Linked DNA regions of Homo sapiens. The protein of the gene in region 2 interacts with the protein of the main gene of each other region in a pairwise test. Each region holds a gene or a part of one and is shown on either strand. Other genes may lie near its edges.

Region 1 (8,751 bases), on a different chromosome or scaffold from region 2:
GGGGTGAAGGCCACTCCACACCCCCTCGCTGCCTGCTGTAGGTCTGTGGCACTCCCCCTTAGGTCAGAGGGTCTTGGAAGGCCAGACAACGCCTGGTCAAATGTTCCGTGCCACTGCGTGCTGCCTTCTCTCCACACCAGCTTCAGGCTCGCCCAGGGAGGTGGGTGGCCGTGGAAAGACCATTGTCTTAAAAGTCAGATGTAACTGAGTCCAAATCCTGGCTCTGACTCCAACTTAGATATGTGACCCTGGGAAACCACTGAACCTCTCTGAGGGATGAGTCTCAACGTGTAGCAAAAAAACATGTCCTGGAAAGTTTCTGGAAGCAGAGGTTTGAATCAGGTGGCTCAGATGTCACCTCCCGGGCCCACATACTCAGAAAAGGCCAAATTCTGCAAGTCTAAGAATAACTAGTTGGTACCAGTGTATGAGCTACAAGTAAAGTTTTACTCTTTTTTTCTCTTCTTTTCTGGAATACTTTTTAAATGATGTAATATATCCCCTACGGAAGATTAATTTGAACATAGTTGTTTTAAAGAATAAAGATCACCCAAGCCAGTGACTCACCCCTGTAGTTCCAACATTTTGTGAGGCCAAGGTGGGAAGACCACTTGAGGCAGAAGTTTGAGACCAGCCTGGGCAACATAGGAAGACCTCATCTCTCAAATAAATAAAATAAAACAAATAAATATAAATAATAAAATAAGCCGTGTGTGGTGGCACATGCCTGTAATCTCAGCTATTCCAGAGGCTGAAGCAAGAGGATCACTTGAGACCAGGAGGTTGAGATCAACACATAAGACCCCGTCTCTTAAAAAAAAAACGAAAAAAAAATTATTTGGGTGTGGTGCTGGCACATGCCTGTCATCCCATCCCACATCTCAGTTACTTGTGGGGCTGAGGCAGGAGGATAGCTTGAGCCTGGGAGTTTGAGGCTGCAGTGAGTGTGATCACACCATACTCCAGCCTGGGCGACAAAGCAAGACCCTGTTTTCAAAAAAAAAAAAAAATCCTGGGCAACACGGCAAGACCCCATCTCTACAAAAAATACAAAAATTAGCAAGGTGTGGTTGTGCAAGCCTGTAATCCCAGCTACTCGGGAGGCTGAGATAGGAGGATCACTTGAACCTGGGAGACAGAGGCTGCAGTGAGCCGAGATCCTGTCACCACACTCCAGCTTGGGTGACAGAGCAAGACCCTGTCTAAAAGAACAAACAAACAAAACAAAGAAAAGAAAAATCACTTGTAATTTTTTTTTTAAGTGAGTCATCAGAAGGGACTGGACTCTCCCACCCCAATCCAAAGAGGACAGGGGTCGAGGCCACTCCGTGCACAAACCCTTAGGGGCTCCCTGAATGTGCAAGAGGAAGGACAATGGTTTGGCGCCAAATGCCGCCGTCACGGGGACAGGCTGGGGTGCTCTTTTCCCAAAGGCACAAATGTGTTTAAAAAGCAAATGATAGCCAGGCGTCGTGGCATGCACCTGTAATCCCAGCTACCAGGGAGGCTGAGGAAGGAGAATCACTTGAACCCGGAAGGTGGAGGTTTCAGTGAGCTGAGATCATGCCACTGCACTCAAGCCTGGGCAACAGAGCAAGACTCCATCTCAAAACAATAATAATAAAATAAAAATAAAAATAAAAAGCAAATGACCAGAAGGACACTTGGTGTGTGGCGAGCCAGGGCAAGTGACCCAGATGGAATGTCAACGGGATCGGGCTCCGGCCACTCCCTGCCCGCACAGGGACCAGCGCTTTGCACATGCCCTTATGGCAGGGGCAACGTGACCTGAGTCAAATCTCAGGCTGATCACTCTGATTTGAAGGAAATGAGGGCGGGGGGCAGACCCTCGTCAGCGTTCTTTCACCCAAAACCCGGCTGCTTTAACTGTTTCCCAAGTTCCCCCCTCAGAAGGAAGTCCTTTTCGAAAGAAAGGGCAAAGTGAGAGAAGAGAGGAGTCAGTGAGAAAGCAAGTGGGCATGTAGATGACTGATGCTCACATTATCTGAGCCACACCCACTGCCCGACTCTCTGTTCCTCACACCGGCAGTTTCCAGGCTCAGGAGAAAGCCGGCAAGCCCCACCACCTTGGGAACAACTCTATTATACAAACAGCTTTCCAACAAGGCTAAAGTCGCCCGGGCGTGATGGGTCATGCCTGTAATCCCAGCACTTTGGGAAGCTGAGGGAGGCAGATTGCTTGAAGCCGGAAGTTTGAGACCAGCCTGGGCAACATAGTGAGACTCCCATCTCTACTAAAAATAAAAAAATTTGTCAGGTGTGGTGGTGTACGCCTGTGGTCCCAGCTATTCAGGAGGCTGAGGTGGGAGGATCACCTGAGCCCAGGAAGGTCAAGGCTGCAGTGAGCTGTGATCACATCACTGCAATCCAGCCTGAGTGATAAAAGTGAGACCCTGTCTCATAATAAGCAAAAACAAAAAAACAAAGTTAAAGTCTCCATTTCAACTTGCTTTCTCAGAGCCTCCACCGATAGTCTTGGAAAAAATATATATATATATATATTTAATATATATAAACGTATAATATAAATGTATTATATATGTATATATATTTATATGTGTGTGTGTATATATACACACATATATACACACACATATAAATACATACATATATATATACACACATATATACACACACACACACATATATATACACACACACATATATATACACACATATATATATACACACATATATATATACACATTTCTTTTGCAAGTCCTTTGTTTTTTTTTGAGACACAGTCTCCCTCTGTTGCCCAGGCTGGAGTGCAGCAGCGTCTGATCTTGGCTCACTGCAACCTCTGCCTCCCGGGTTCAAGTGATTTCCTGCCTCAGCCTCCCAAGTAGCTGGGATTACAGGCGTGTGCCACCATGCCTGGCTAATTTTTGTATTTTTAATAGACATGGGGTTTCATCATGTTGGTCAGACTGGTCTCGAACTCCTGACCTTGTGATCCACCCACCTGGGCCTCCCCAAGCGCTGGGATTACAGGTGTGAGACACCACACCTGGTGCAAGTCCTTTTTAAAAACGCTTTTCACAATTTCAAAACAAATTAAAATCCAACCTTCTGATAAAATACACCCATATGCACACTGCACACACATGTATGTACTCACAGGCACACACACACAAAGCACGCATGCACACCAGTCTCTATGCAGAGACTATCTCTGGAAAGGAACATAAAGAAATCAGGACCAGTGGCTGCCTCTGGAACAAAAACTGGGTGGTGGGAGACTCATTTTCCATAGTGCATTTTTTTGTACCATGAACATATGTTTCATGTTCAAAAAACCCCAAAAACCTCCTTTTTTAGAATGCCTTAAAGAACTGACTTAGTAAACAACACTAAGGTAAACTACAATTTTAGAATGAGCGTCTCTTCCCCTGTAATTCTGGAAGGAGCCTTTTTGTCTAATTGCATACTACCGCCCCTAAGGAAGCGACTTTATTTTTTCACTTCATAGCTGCGGTTGGGCCATCTAAATATTAAACATCCTGCTTTCTTTTAAATTCATTGTGAAGCATTCCCCCACATGGGCTTCTGTAAACAGCTTCTAGCGTGCCAACTTCATCCAATATCTCCCCCTCTCCGGAGCCTCATGGCACCCTACCAGAGCCTTTGCACCATCGTGCCTCTGTTTCCCCGATCCACCCCAAGGATGGCCTCCGACAGGGCTTCTTATAGGACTGGATGCTTGAGTGGGCTACTCCCTCCAACCTCCCAGTCAGTGGGCCGGGATGGGTTGACCCAGCTCCTGCACCCCAAGAAGCCTGGTGTCACTCCCCCACGCATCACACCATGCAGATGCACCACGGGTATCTCATGGGTGTCACCACAGAGTGTGCAATGACATAGCATGCCGCGCTGCAGGAGTGCAGCCAGGACCCGGAAGGGGGAGCAGGTCCCATGGCCCTCGTCCTGGCCCATCTGCACGCGAGGTGTCTGCAGTGACGTCAGGTGACTCTACTCTTAGCATCCATTCTCAAGACCTCCCCGGCCAGCCTTACCCTCCATGGGAAATACTGGTCCTCCAGGCGACCGATTCCCAGGCACCCTCGGATGTTCTTGCCCCATACAAACAGCTCTCCTTTGTCTGCAAAGGGAGGAAAACAGGGGTTGGTTGGGACTGTGTGAAGAACAAGTCTCCAAGGAGAGGATGGGTCATGAGAACAGGCTTTCTAGAACCAGATACCTACAGAGCCCACTGTTCAGCTTTTACCAGGCGTTCATGCTTTCTTTGAAGGCAAAAGTAAGGGTCTGAGATGCTGTCCCCATATCGAAAACACATCCACGGCCAGGACTTCTGCTGCATCCACCCACGTGGGAGATGAGCACTCAAATGAAGATGGGGCAGGGGGCAGTGCACGGGGCTGGGGGTGATGCATGGAGCTGGGGTCTGGGGGTGGTGCACGGGGCTGGGGGTGGTGCATGGAGCTGGGGTCTGGGGGTGGTGGACAGGGCTGGGGGTGGTGCATGGAGCTGGGGTCTGGGGGTGGTGGACAGGGCTGGGGGTAGTGCATGGAGTTGGGGTCTGGGGGTGGTGGACAGGTCTGGGGGTGGTGCATGGAGCTGGGGTCTGGGGGTGGTGCACGGGGCTGGAGGTCACTGATGCACACGGCCCACTCTGCTCACCCCTTGTGCCCCGCCCACAATCGTGTGCCACCAAACTCTGCCTTCCACAAATCCTGGCGACACCCTGGGCTTCCTGATTTGACAGTGAAAAGTAAGACAATTTGTCATTCCTGGATTGATTGTCCATATCTTGGGAGCATTCAGCCACAGGGCATCTAATGACCAAGTGCCTGCTTGTGCTGGGTCTAGGTCTGTGTTCCAGGAGCTGGGGACTGGCCAGAGACGGAACAGACAGATGATTTTAATATATGTTTACAAACTGTAAAAACTGTCATGAAGAAAAAGTACAAGATGCTGTTTAAGAGGTCAACCCAGGAGATGGCCTCTCCTAGCCCGGCCTTCAGGTGGGACTCTGTCTGCACCAGCTGGGGCACTCCTGGGCCCATGTCACCATCAGCTGTTGGGCAAAAGGCTTGGGTCATGGGAGGCAGAGGAAGTGACATGGAAAAGCCAGGACTACAAGACCTGGGGCTGATGAAGTACGGAATAATTACAAGCTGTCTTAGGCCCCTGATCTAAGCATGCCCCTTGTTCTCCACACTCAGACCTTAGATAGTTTTTGTGTGTGTGTGTTTGTTTGCTTTTGAGACAGGGTCTCACTCTGCTGCCCAGGCTGCGACGCAGTGGCACAAACATAGCTCACTGCAGCCTTGAACTCTCAAACTCAAGCAGTCCTTCCACCTCAGCCTCCAGAGTAGCTGGGACTACAGGCGCACACCACCACACCCAGCTAATTTCTGTATTTTTTGTAGAAAAGGGATCTCACTATGTTGCCTAGGCTAGTCTCGAACTCCTGGGCTTTGAGGGATCCTCTCATCTTGGCCTCCCAAAGTGCTGGGATTACAAGCATGAGCCACTGCACCCAGCTAGCCCTTAGGTGTTTAATAGAACAATTCGGCCTGGCTCCCCAAAATGCTAGCAGACCACAGGATAAACCAACCAACTCTAATTCCCAGATGGCTATCTGCAAATGCCAGGCACACAGGCAGGAAGACAGCTAGGCTCTGTCTACCAACAGGCAGTAACTCACCCTTAGAAGGAGGCCTGTTAAGTCTCGGGGAGAAATCCAGAAAGGAATTTCATTTCGCTGTGACCTGAAATGGCTACATGGCATGAGGGCAAATAGAAAAGCCTCTGCTCTAGTCAAATGCTTCACACAGATTTCTAAACATGTGTCTCTGCCCATAGTTGAGGCCTTAAGAACTTTCTGGAAAGTAGATATTTGTTTCCCCCAAAATTAGTCCATACGACTCTTATTTATCAAATCAAAATAGCTTTAAGAATTCATGACACTGAATTAGCCGGGCGTGGTGGTGTGTGCCTGTAATCCCAGCTACTTGGGAGGCTGAGGCAGGAGAATCGTTTGAACTCGGGAGGCGGAGGTTGCAGTGAGCCAAGATCGCGCCATTGCACTCCAGCCTGGGCAACAAGAGTGAGACTCCAACTCAAAAAAAAAGAATTCATGAGACCTACACTCAGCTGCAAATGCAAGTGGCCACTCTGGCTGGGCAGTGGCCAGGAATTCTCTGGCTTAGTCATGACCACTGCCACTTCAGTGCTTCAGCCTAGAGCCAGATAAAACTCCAGCTGGCAGCCATAACAACCCAGGCCTGCCTGTTTGACGGCCTCTGGAGCCTGGAATTCAGACAATAAGTGAATAGCAGTTAGGACCCTGGTACAGAGGGTGAGCATCTGGGACAGGCCCCACGTGGGAATGAGGCCAGAGAACTCAACCAAAGATGACACCAACTGACTGTCCCGGCCTGGATGTTTAAAAAGAAAACAATTACTTGCCATGAGATGAAAAGATTCTTTTAATTGCAAGGAAATAACTAATTTACTTGAGAATCACAGAATGAAATTAATTCAGGACAGTTTTACTATTCGAGTCAACTAAAGAGCAGCAAATTGAACCCACGGTAACTGTGGTGGAGTAAGAGATGTAACCAAGAAAAGGACACATTCCTTACCCTTACCCTGCAGGGTAAGCGGATATTCTGTGGCTTTGTAATCTGGCAGGCCTTTGGGAAAAACCTCCATTTTGCTCTCCCCTTTCATCATTCTCTACCCCGGCACTTTGGAGAAATCGGTAGATTTACCTCCGTGAAACCACGGGACAGTCTGACAAATCGGCCTTTTGCCATCCCATATCCTGGGTCAGATCAGGGTCTGGGCTCGGCCAGGGAATGGGATTAAGCCCCACACATTCACTTCCTAATCACCCACCCATGGATCCGCCAAGCCTCTGCTGGTTTCCTCCAGCACCCGACGTACTAGCAATGCCCCTTCCTACCACCGACGGGTGCTCTCTTGAGAAAATGCACGTTCACGTTAGCCTACCCACAAACCAAACGAACCAAAATTAAAACTCCAGGGGGGGAAAACAAGACATTATACAACCTCGAGGCAAACAACTTCTGGCTTAGCCCTTGCTTGAGTTATCAGTACAAAGGCGCCGTTCTGTTGGATGGGTGGAACCTGAGAGCTGCCCGCAGTTTGGGGTTGAACTGGAGACAGAGAACCTCTGCTGGGCTCACACCAGGGCCACCGGGCTTGGTAACTTACTGGTCAGTGCAGCAAAGTGGCTGAGTCCACATCGGATGCGGGAAACCTGGATTTCTGGGTTGAACTCCGTCAAGCCAAAGAGAGTGGGTGGAATCATTTCAGGGACGGCACTTTCCACTAGGTTTGGACCTTTCCCAAGAATTCCATAGCCCCAGACAAAAACATGTCCTTCTCCTACATTACAGTAAAAACAAGGGTCAGTAAGTCCATCCAAGTAAGAACCTCCCTCACCAGAAACTCAAACTACACCACCAAGGTTTATGACATCCACACGGTTTTTTTTTGTTTTTTTTTTGTTTTGTTTTTTTCCTCCTTGCTTGGCAAGAACATGCAGACAGAGATTTAGAATAATAATTCTCTCTCCCCTGCTTAAATTCTTGCTGGGGGAGTCTGTCTCGCCAGCTCTCCTGGCTCAGAACACAAACTTCCCACATCTTGAGGGTTAGTAACCTGGAAGGGACGAGCGTATAAATCATCCAGAAAACCCATACGAATACCAGAGAATTGGAGGATGTTTTCTCCCCCTAATGACAGCTCTGTGTTTCACACTGATCAGAAGGCCAAACACATCAACAATGTCTGGCCAGATTCTTAAAACTCTTAGAAATGATGTTTTGGTTATAGAAAGTTTAATATTCATCAGTGGTGCCAGATATTTCATCGTTATCCAAAGCTGAAGGCTGTTCTCCCATCTGCCTTTGATTTTTTGGCTGGAGAAGGCAGAGCTGGAGTCTCTCTGGCCCAGGCTAAGGGAGGGGAATGAAGTAGTTCGCTCTCCACTCCAGAGGTTTGCTCTAGGATGACTCAGCTCTGTGGCCATGTATCTACAGATAAATCGCAGACTATTCGCTTTTTGTTAAGAACTTCATTCACACCCTGTAATGCCATCTTCTAATCCAATGCCATCTTCCCATGGCCATAGTCCCTTCCTTTTTTGAAACAGGGTCTCACCGTGTTGCCCAGTGCAGTGGCATGATCATAGCTCACTGCAGCTCGAACTCCTGGGCTCAAGGGACCTTTCTGCCTCAGCCTTCTGAGTAGCTGGGACTACAGGTGTGCACCACCATGCCCAGCTAATTTTTCATTTTTTCTTTTTCTATTGAGACAGAGTCATCCAGGCTGGAGTGCAGTGGCGCAATCTCGGCTCACTACAACCTCTGCCTCCTGGGTCCAAGCAATCCTCCCACCTTAGCCTTCCAAGTACTAGGATTACAAGCATGTACCACCATGTCTGGCTAATTTTTCTATTTTTAGTAGAGTCAGGGTTTCACCACGTTGGCCAGGCTGGTCTTGAACTCCTGACCTCAGGTGATCTGCCTGCCTTGGCCTCCCAAAGTGCTGAGATTACAGGTGTGAGCCACCACACCCAGCCTTCCAGCTAATTTCTCCATTTTTTGGTAGAGACAGGGTCTCGTTATGTTGTCCAGGCTGGTCTGGAACTCCTGGCCTCAAGCAATCCTCCTGCATCAGTTCCCCAAAGTGCTGGGATTACAGATGTGAGCCACCGCGCCCAGCCATGTTACC
Region 2 (8,892 bases):
TTATCAAACTATGGTACACAGAATGTGAAAATGACCCCGAGCCCCACCAAGATTTCCCACCCTAATCTCCAGGACTGTGAATATGATGCAATATGATTATGTTACATTACATAACAACAGGGATTTTGAGGGAAATTAAGGTTACTAATCAGTTGATTCTGCTGTAATCAAAAGGGAGATTATCCAGGTGGGCCTAATTAATCACATGAGCCCTGTGGGATTAGAATTGTGAAGGCTTCTCAATGCCAGGCATTTTCTCTGGCTAGAGGCTGAAGAAGTCAGAGAGATTCAAAGCATGAGAAGGATTCAATGCACTGCAGCTGTCTTGAAGACAGACTGGGCCATGTGATGAGGGATGTGAGTGGTATCTAGAAACTGAAAGGAGTTCCTGCCTGAAGGCCAACAGGGAAATGGCAGCCTCAGTCCTACCATCATAAGAAATCAACTCTGCCAACAACCTGAATGAGTCTGGAAGTGAATTCTTCCCCCAGACCCTCCAGATAAGGACCTGGTCAGCCAATACCTTGACTTTGGCCTTGTGAGACCTTAAGCAAACAACTCAGCCAAGCCTACTGGACCTCTAAACTACTGAACTGTGAAATAACAAATAAGTGTTGTTTTAAGCTCTCAAGTCTGGAGTAATGTGTTATGTAGCAATAGAAACTAACAAATACACATTGTCTTGATATTCGGTTCTATTATTGCTTTGGGTCCTTTCTTACATTTTAGGTCTGCCTCAAGTCTCCAATGGATTCTTAGTCTCCTTAGGTCAGAGTTCATGGCTTCTAGCTTTGCCTCCACAGCATCCAGCACAAGTCTGTGTTGTCAGTCACCATAAATGGCCCAATGGCACCTGAAGCAGTAGCAATTCCCAGGGCATGCGGTAGAGACTTAGGATTCATTCTTACCTCCAGAATCAGTGGATGGGCGACTGCGTCAGGCTTGATCAGGGCTAGAGTGAGCTGGAGAGCCTGAGGGCTTCGCAAGATTGAGGCCATCTCACTCCTGCCATTAGAGAGCTGTATTAGGAACCCTTCAGGACGGCACTCCCAGCCTTCCCTACATTGGAGCCACGCAGCCTTGCAAGCCAACGAGTGCTCTCACTCCTGACACTCATAAAGAACCTGACAGTTTCATCTTAAGGCCATATACATTATTTTAATTGCCCATTTGGGCTCATGGGATCAAGGGAGGGGAGTTGTAGAGGGAGCATTCAAGTTCCCCCGTGGAGTATACAATCTAGTGCAACTGTAAGCCTATGAGGGAATTACCCATTAAAAGAAACTCAAGTTTAAATACTACCTGTCTCTGCCAATATCCCTTCCTAACTTCCTTTTGTATTTTACAGAGGATTTACAATTTATACTCCTAAACAGCCTATCCACAAGGCCTATTCATAATGATGAATTCATCTCTTAAAATCTTCCATCCCATAGTGCTCTCCTATCAAATCTAGAATTGGAAGATTGATGGACAGCAACTGAGGTGCTACCAGGATACCAAAAAGTCTGCTGGATAAACACCATCTCTATTCTAATATTATGGAGAGATCAGGATCTCCTGTGCCCAAATCAAACCTGTTAATACACTCAGCTGTCCTCAGTGGTAACACTGAGGTCAACACACAACTCCAACATCAGGAACAAGTCATAACCATTTTGCATCTGAAACAGTGCCTGACACAAAGGTGCTTGATCAATTTTATTTACTAAATAAACCTATATAGTCTTATTTCTATTCATCTTTGTATTCCTAATGTCTAGCATGGTGTAAGAGCTCAATATTGTAGAAATGATATAATGGACATAAAAGCATTTTATAAACTGGACTAAGGGAATTTTGAGGTCTTTTCCAATTGTGAAATCCGAGTTATACGTGAGAAATTTATCACCTCTGCAGGAGTAAAGACTTTGTCTCAAAATCTTATCTCAATATTATCTCTCATTTGGCCATGTGTAGTGGCTCACACCTGTAATATCAGTACTTGAGGCCAGGAGTTTGACCTGGGCAACAAAGCAAGACCCTGACTCTACTACATATGTGTGTATGTGTGTGTGTGTATATATATATAATATATATGTGTGTATATATATAAAATCATTTGTCGACAAATACAGAGAAGGCTTCCATTAACATAGGCAGGGACAGAGTCTAGACAACATTCTCATTTATCTTATCCTAAAAACTGTCAATCATGTTAAAGGTGGTATTAGAATCTGGCCCAAGCAAAGAAACTGCCATGGTCGCTCCTATTCATGTCCTTTCTACAGCTTTCAACCTGATTTTCCACTCAAACCATAAAGCCACACCCAATCTAACCAGTACAAGATCAGCTAACCCACTCTCCCTAATGCCACAGGTGGTAACACGTCATTTTCAGCAACTGTCTACAGAGACATCCATGACACCTCCCCTCCCTCACTCTTCATATCCACACGATCACCAACTTCTGGCAATTTTCCCTACCTAATATATCTCAAAACCCATACCATTCTCCCATCCTCAACTGCTACCACCATAACTCTAAGACATCATCATTCCCCTCTGGACATCTTGACAGCCTCCTCTTTGGTCTCCCAGTTTCTGTCCTGCCAACCTCTACAATCTCCACACAGCAGCCAAAGTGAACCACACATGAAAATCTAATCATATGGTTCCCCTCCTTAACCCTTTAAAGGGCACCCTGTTCTTAGAATAAAAACCAAAATCCTTATCACGGCCTCCCAGGCTCTGCATGATCTTGTGGTTCCCCACGTACCTCTCTAGCCTCATCTGGAACCCCACACTCCTTAAGTTTCTCTAGCTCCAACCTCATGGGCCTTTCAGTTTTGAAAGAATTTCTGGCTTGACAGCCTTTGTGTGAGTAGTTTTCGCAGTCCTGAATGTGCTTTCTCTGGTTGCCTCCTGCCCACCTTAGTGATCTTAGCTCACTTCCCGTTACACTTTCTCACAGCTCCTTGCAAGTTCCCTTCAGTTCCGTCTTCACCACCAGAAGGTGTAAGCAGTACCTAGCACACAGCTGGCTCTTAACAGTATCTGAATGAACCAACGAATGCACCTCATCCAGCCATTCCAAGGCCAGGCTGCTAGGGGTTCTCGTGGCAAGAACACGCGGCCTGTAGGGAGGACATGGTTCCTTTACTAACGCAGCTAAGTTGTGGCTGTCTTGACTCTTGGTTTACAACAAACTGACAAGTCGAGAATCCTGTTAGACTTAAAGGTGACTCCATGAGAATTAAAAATTTTAGGCAGGGCGCGGTGTCTCACGCCTGTAATCCCAGCACTTTGAAAGACCGAGGCGGGCGGATCACGAAGTCAGGAGATCAAGACCATCCTGGCCAACATGGTGAAAGCCCGTCTCTACTAAAAATACAAAAAAATTAGCCAGGCATAACGGCGCGCGCCTACAGTCACAGCTACTAGGGAGGCTGAGGCAGGAGCATTACTTGAACTCTGGAGGCGGAGGCTGCAGTGAGCCGAGATCGCGCCACTGCACTCCAGCCTGGCGACAGAACCAGACTCCGTCTCCAAAACAAAAAAAAAGTAAAGCTGTCGGTACACTGCCACCCCAGCACTCGAGGGGGCCACCACTCGCTTCCTGGAGGGCGGCGGCCCAGCCCTGGTCCACCCACGCGCGGCCGGGACCTGCGCCCCTACCCCCGTGGCCACGCCCTCCAGCCCCCCGGGCTCACGGCCTCAACTCTCGACCCAGCCCCCTACTTCTCTAGGCCTGCAACCGCGCAGCCCTCACCCCTCGTACCCGGGGCCTAAGCCCACCCCAGATTCTGGGTCATTCGGAGCCCCAGTGCAGCAGAAGTCCGGCTGCGGGTTCACCTTGTCCTCCGGCACAGGGCCCGGCCACCAGGCGCCACGCTGGATAGCCTGCGGCCCTCGCAGGGTCCTTCAGGCGCTCCCTGGGCAGCCCTGCTCGGGGTCCTAGTCCGGTTGCGCCGCGGCGTGAGGTGAGGTGTGAGTTGCCCTGGAGGGTGGCGGGTTTTCCAGGCGCATGCATTTGCCGCGGACGGGACGAGAGGATGAAGCCGTTCTGGGCGCCGGAACTCGCTTGTGGGAACCGCCCCTCGGAAGCCGGCCTGGGCGCCCTCGGAAGCCGGCCTGGGCGCCCTCGGCGGGAGGGAGTGCTGGGCCGGGTGCTGGCGCAGCGCTACGCAGGGTGGCGGAACCCAGAGGACCGGACGGGCTCGTTCAGGGTGGCGGCCCGGCGGGGGCGATGCCCGCCAGCAGAGACACCGATGGAAACCTTGCCCAGTTATTTTCTTTGCCCAGGGTAGTTCCTGGAACATGGTTGATGCCCAGTATTTGTCAAAAGTACGCGGAGGGCAAAGAACTTAAGCGCTCGATAGCGAAGGCACAGGCCCTTCAAAGTCTTTTGAGCTCTGAGCGATACATTAGCATGAAGGATCGTAGCTAATATGGGGGTTGATGAAGGAGGATCCTTGGCTGGAGCCCAGGTGTGCATAGGGCATGAGGAAAGCAAGTCATAACGGCCTTTCACGTGTCATTAGGAATCTGGGCAGCAGGGTGTGGTTTGGGTTACTCTGGAGTCTATTGACGCAGCCCAGGGTGAGGAGATGAGAACTGGGGGTATTCCTGGTGTGTACTGTGATGTATGGAGAGGATGGGGACAGGGAGAATGGATCGGGGGTCAGCTGTGGCAGGTGACCAGAAACTTGGTGACAGGTTGAATAAAGATGGTTAAAAAAAAAAAAAGTGTTTTGGTTTCTTGGGTTTTTTTTTTTTTTTTTGAGGGAAATCACTGAGAATGAGAAGAATGAAAATAAACGATAACTGTCATCAATGTAAAGACTTACTTGCACATTTAACTGACTTCGGTGTCTGCCTACACAGGTGTTGCCCTCTTGGAAGGTTTATCCCCAACTCATGGCTTCTGTCCCTGCAGCAATAAGAAGCCACTTCCCAATAGTTTCCTGATACCCAGTCACCTTTGGGAACTTACGAGGAAAGTTTTTCCAGTCTCTCCGCAGACCCTTGCATCTCTTCTCTTTTTGTTTAGACCCTTGACCACCACCCCCTATTCTAATCTTAACTCCTCTGCTACTCAGTTCCAATCCTAACCCAAGCCCTAGTCCCTAAATTTATAATCCTTTAATCCTAGACCTGGTCTCTAGATCCTGAGCCCTTGATGCTTATCTTCTAACCTCCTAATCCCAACCTCAAATCCCTAAACCTCAACCCATGAATTCTGACCTGATTCTCAAACCCCAGGCCCCCAACCCTGACTCCAAAAATGACAACCCATTACTTCTCCCTACACGGAATCACTGACGGAGTTGTAGCAACTGAATCTGCAGTAGGCCAAAGGACCCAGTGAGTTAGCCAGCAAACTACTCTAAATAAAAGATATGGTGGATAACAGCAAGCCTAAACAAATCTTCCTCAAAGATGAGCAACACAAGTCCCAGTCATTATGACAATACCTCTGTATCTCAACAAAGGGGCTTAAATCAGCAAGTCATCCCAGCCCCTGAAGGAAGAGAACAGTCCTTGTAAGTTGCAAAGCTCTCAGAGGACATGGGTGGCTCAGTAAAGCCCCTGTTCTAGGACACAGCAAAAGAAGCAACACAATAACCACCATGGCCCAGCAGATGAGGGCCACAGCCAGCATCGCCACCCCTGAGTCTGCCTTCCCAGTATGATCATCAGGACTTCAGAAGTCCCAGCAAACCAGTTAAACAGAAGACAAGAACCTTATGTGAAACCAAATTCCAGACAACTGATACAGATGGCATTCCAGAATCTGCAGCATTCCAGCATGCAACAAACTGCAATAAGTGACACAGATCTCTCCCCGACAGACACCTTATGAGAAGCAAGGGGAAAAAAATGCTCCAATAAAATGGAATCCCAGAATCTCTTCACCATCCCACCCTCAAACCCCTCCCCATTGCCAGGATGCTATGGCATAAGAGGCAAAGGACAATTCACAGTAGTAATAAAAAACATTTACTAAACACTTAGAAACAGTACTGACCAGGTGCCTCATTCAATGCTACGCTTATGTGAATTCTGTATGTATACTGTACTTAGATACAATTTTTTAAAAATTGATACTGCTAAAGCCTTGCTTAGATGGAAATTTGTAGCCTAAAATACATATATTAGAAAAGAAGAAAGACTGGAAATTCAGTAAGCCTCCATCTCAACAAGTTAGAAAAAGAGGAACAGAGCCTCAGAAACCTGTGACACATCATCAAGCGTATAATTTGTTATTATTATTTATTATTATTATTTTGAGACAGAGTCTCGCTCTGTTGCCCAGGCTGGAGTGCAATGGCGTGATCTTGGCTCACTGCAACCTCTGCCTCCCGGGTTCAAGCGATTCTCCTGCTTCAGCCTCCTAAGTAGCTGGGATTACAGGCACCTGCCACCACGCCTGGCTGATTTTTGTATTTTCAGTAGAGATGGGGTTTCACCATGCTGGCCAGGCTGGTCTTGAACTCCTGACCTCAGGCGATGGATCGCCCGCCTCGGCCTCCCAAAGTGCTGGAATTACAGGCATGAGCCACTGCGCCTGGCTGTTATTATTTATTATTAACTATTGCTTTATGCAATTGTCTTTTAAATCATATAGGAGAATAAAAGATTTACAAACAAAACCATATATTTATACTGTCTTTAACTGTGTAGTTACCTCTACCAGTTCTCTTTATTTCCCCTTGTGGATTTAAGTGTCCTTTCGCTTCAGCCTAAAGTATTCCCTTTAGTATTTCCTGCAGGGTGGATCTGCTGGAGACAAATTATTTCGGTTTTTATTAGTTTTGTTGGTCATCTTACTTTCTCCTTCATTTCTTTTTTTTTCTTTTCTTTTCTTTTTTTCTTTTTTTTTTTTTTTGAGATGGAGTTTTGCTCTTGTTGCCCACACTGGAGTGCAATGGTGCAATCTTGGCTCACTGCAACCTCTGCGTCCTAGGTTCAAGCAATTCTCCTGCCTCAGCCTCCCAAGCAGCTGGGATTACAGGCATGCAACACCACACTCAGCTAATTTTGTAATTATATTTAGTAGAGAGGGTTTCACTGTGTTGGCCAGGCTGGTCTTGAACTTCTGACCTCAGATGATCCACCCGCCTCAGCCTCCCTAAGTGCTGGGATTACAGGAGTGAGTCACCACTCTTCTTCATTTCTGAAGGATTTTCTTTATGGATATAGAATTCTTGGCTGATGTTTTTTTTCTGTTAGCACTTTGAATATGTTATCCTACTGCTTTCTGGCCTCCATGATTTCTGACGAGAAACTAGATGTTAATCTTACTGAGGGTCATCTGTACTTAATGATTTGCTTCTCTTTTGCTGCTTTCAAAATTCTCTCTTGGTCTTTGGCTTTTGACAGAGATTATGATGTGTATAGGTGTGGATTTCTTTGAGTTTGTCCTACTTGGAGTTTGCTGAGTTGCTTGGATGCATATGTTAACATTCTTTGAAAAATTTGAGATATTTTCAGTCATTATTTCTTCAAATATCTTTCTGCCCTTTTCTTTCTTCCTTCTCCTTCCTGGACTACCATTATCTTTATGTTGTTATGCTTAATTATATCCCAAAGGCTTCCAGGGCTCTGTTCCTTTTTCTTTCTGCTCCTCGCACTGGTTAATGTCAATCTTTCTTCAAGTTCACTTGTTCTTTCTTCTACCTGTTCAACTTTGCTATTGAGCCTCTCTAGTGAATTTGTCACTTTAGTTATTGTACTTATCACCTCAAGAAAGTTATATTTAAAAAAATAATTTCTTTATGATGTTCTCTACTTGTTCACACATCATTCTTATACTTTATTTCTTTAGACATAGTTTATCTCTTTGAAAAAATATGTATACATGTATGTATGTGTATTTTTTTTTAATAAGGCCTCGCTGTTACCCAGGCTAGAATGCAGTGGCACAATCATAGCTCATTGTAGCCTAAACCTCCTGGGCTCAAGCAATCAATCCTCCCACCTCAGCTTCCCAAGTAGCTAGGACTACAGGCACGTGCCAGCATGCCTGATAATTTTTAATTTTTTTGTAGAGATAGGACAACTATGTTGTCCAGGCTGGTCTTGAATTCCTGGCCTCAAGTGATCCTTTCACCTCAGGCCCCCAAAGTGTTGGGATTATAGCCATGAGTCACCTGCCTGGGCTGATTTAAAGTCTTTGTCTAGTAAGTCCAACATTGGAGCTTTCTTGGCAACAATTCCTATTGACTGATCTTTTTTTCTTGTGTATGGGCCAGACTTTCTTGTTTCTTTGTATGTGTCACAATATTTCATTGAAAATTGGATGTTTTAAACAACATAATGTGGCAACTTTGGAAATCAGATTCTCCCCTTCCCCCAGGTTTGTTGTTGCTATTCATTTGTGTAGTGATTTTTATCAATTAATTTTTTAAAGTATGTATTCTTGGTAGTGTGTAACCATTGAAGACTCTGTTCCATTAGTTTAGTGGTCATCTAATGATTGGACATAGTGTTTTTAAATACTTGGAACCAATAAGTCTTTCTGCCTTTGCCGAGGTATTCTGTATGTATTGAGCCATGCCTTCAATGGTCAGGCAGGCAGTTTACAACTCTGCTTTAGACTTCATTTCTTGCTATTTAGAGCATTAAAGTCAGCCAAGGTGAGCACATAGGGCCTTCTAAAGATTCTCCTGGACATATTACAGACCTGCTCATGCTCTTGGTCTTCTAGATTCCTAGAAATATGCCAGAGCTTTTCAAAAGCTCCATGGACATTCTATTCTCAGCTTTTTCTTTTACTTTTTTTTTGTTGTTGTTATTTGTTTGTCCCAAATGTTATCACTGCTTAAGGTTGTTGCAAATTTTAAAAATTGAGGCTGTTTGTTTTTGACAGATGCCCCAGGGAAAAAGTTCTCAGTGAGAGAACTCTCA

The links.
Region 1: the proteins of NME6 (region 2) and RCC1L interact in binary tests that used the Homo sapiens proteins (3 or more experiments, as listed by UniProt).

What each region holds. Positions count from the first base shown.
Region 1 is NC_000007.14:75,048,674-75,057,424, forward strand, and holds part of RCC1L (RCC1-like G exchanging factor-like protein), read right to left. Parts: intron 8,052-8,751; coding exon of another isoform or gene 8,032-8,051; exon of another isoform or gene 7,840-8,031; intron 7,402-7,839; coding exon 7,228-7,401; intron 4,124-7,227; coding exon 4,038-4,123; intron 1-4,037. UniProt on the Homo sapiens protein: Guanine nucleotide exchange factor (GEF) for mitochondrial dynamin-related GTPase OPA1. Activates OPA1, by exchanging bound GDP for free GTP, and drives OPA1 and MFN1-dependent mitochondrial fusion. Plays an essential role in mitochondrial ribosome biogenesis.
Region 2 is NC_000003.12:48,297,519-48,306,410, forward strand, and holds the start of NME6 (nucleoside diphosphate kinase 6), read right to left. Parts: upstream 3,850-8,892; 5' UTR 3,835-3,849; exon of another isoform or gene 3,795-3,834; coding exon of another isoform or gene 3,778-3,794; exon of another isoform or gene 3,752-3,777; intron 3,117-3,751; coding exon of another isoform or gene 3,009-3,116; intron 3,003-3,008; exon of another isoform or gene 2,913-3,002; intron 1,006-2,912; coding exon of another isoform or gene 999-1,005; coding exon 909-998; intron 1-908. UniProt on the Homo sapiens protein: Major role in the synthesis of nucleoside triphosphates other than ATP. The ATP gamma phosphate is transferred to the NDP beta phosphate via a ping-pong mechanism, using a phosphorylated active-site intermediate. Inhibitor of p53-induced apoptosis.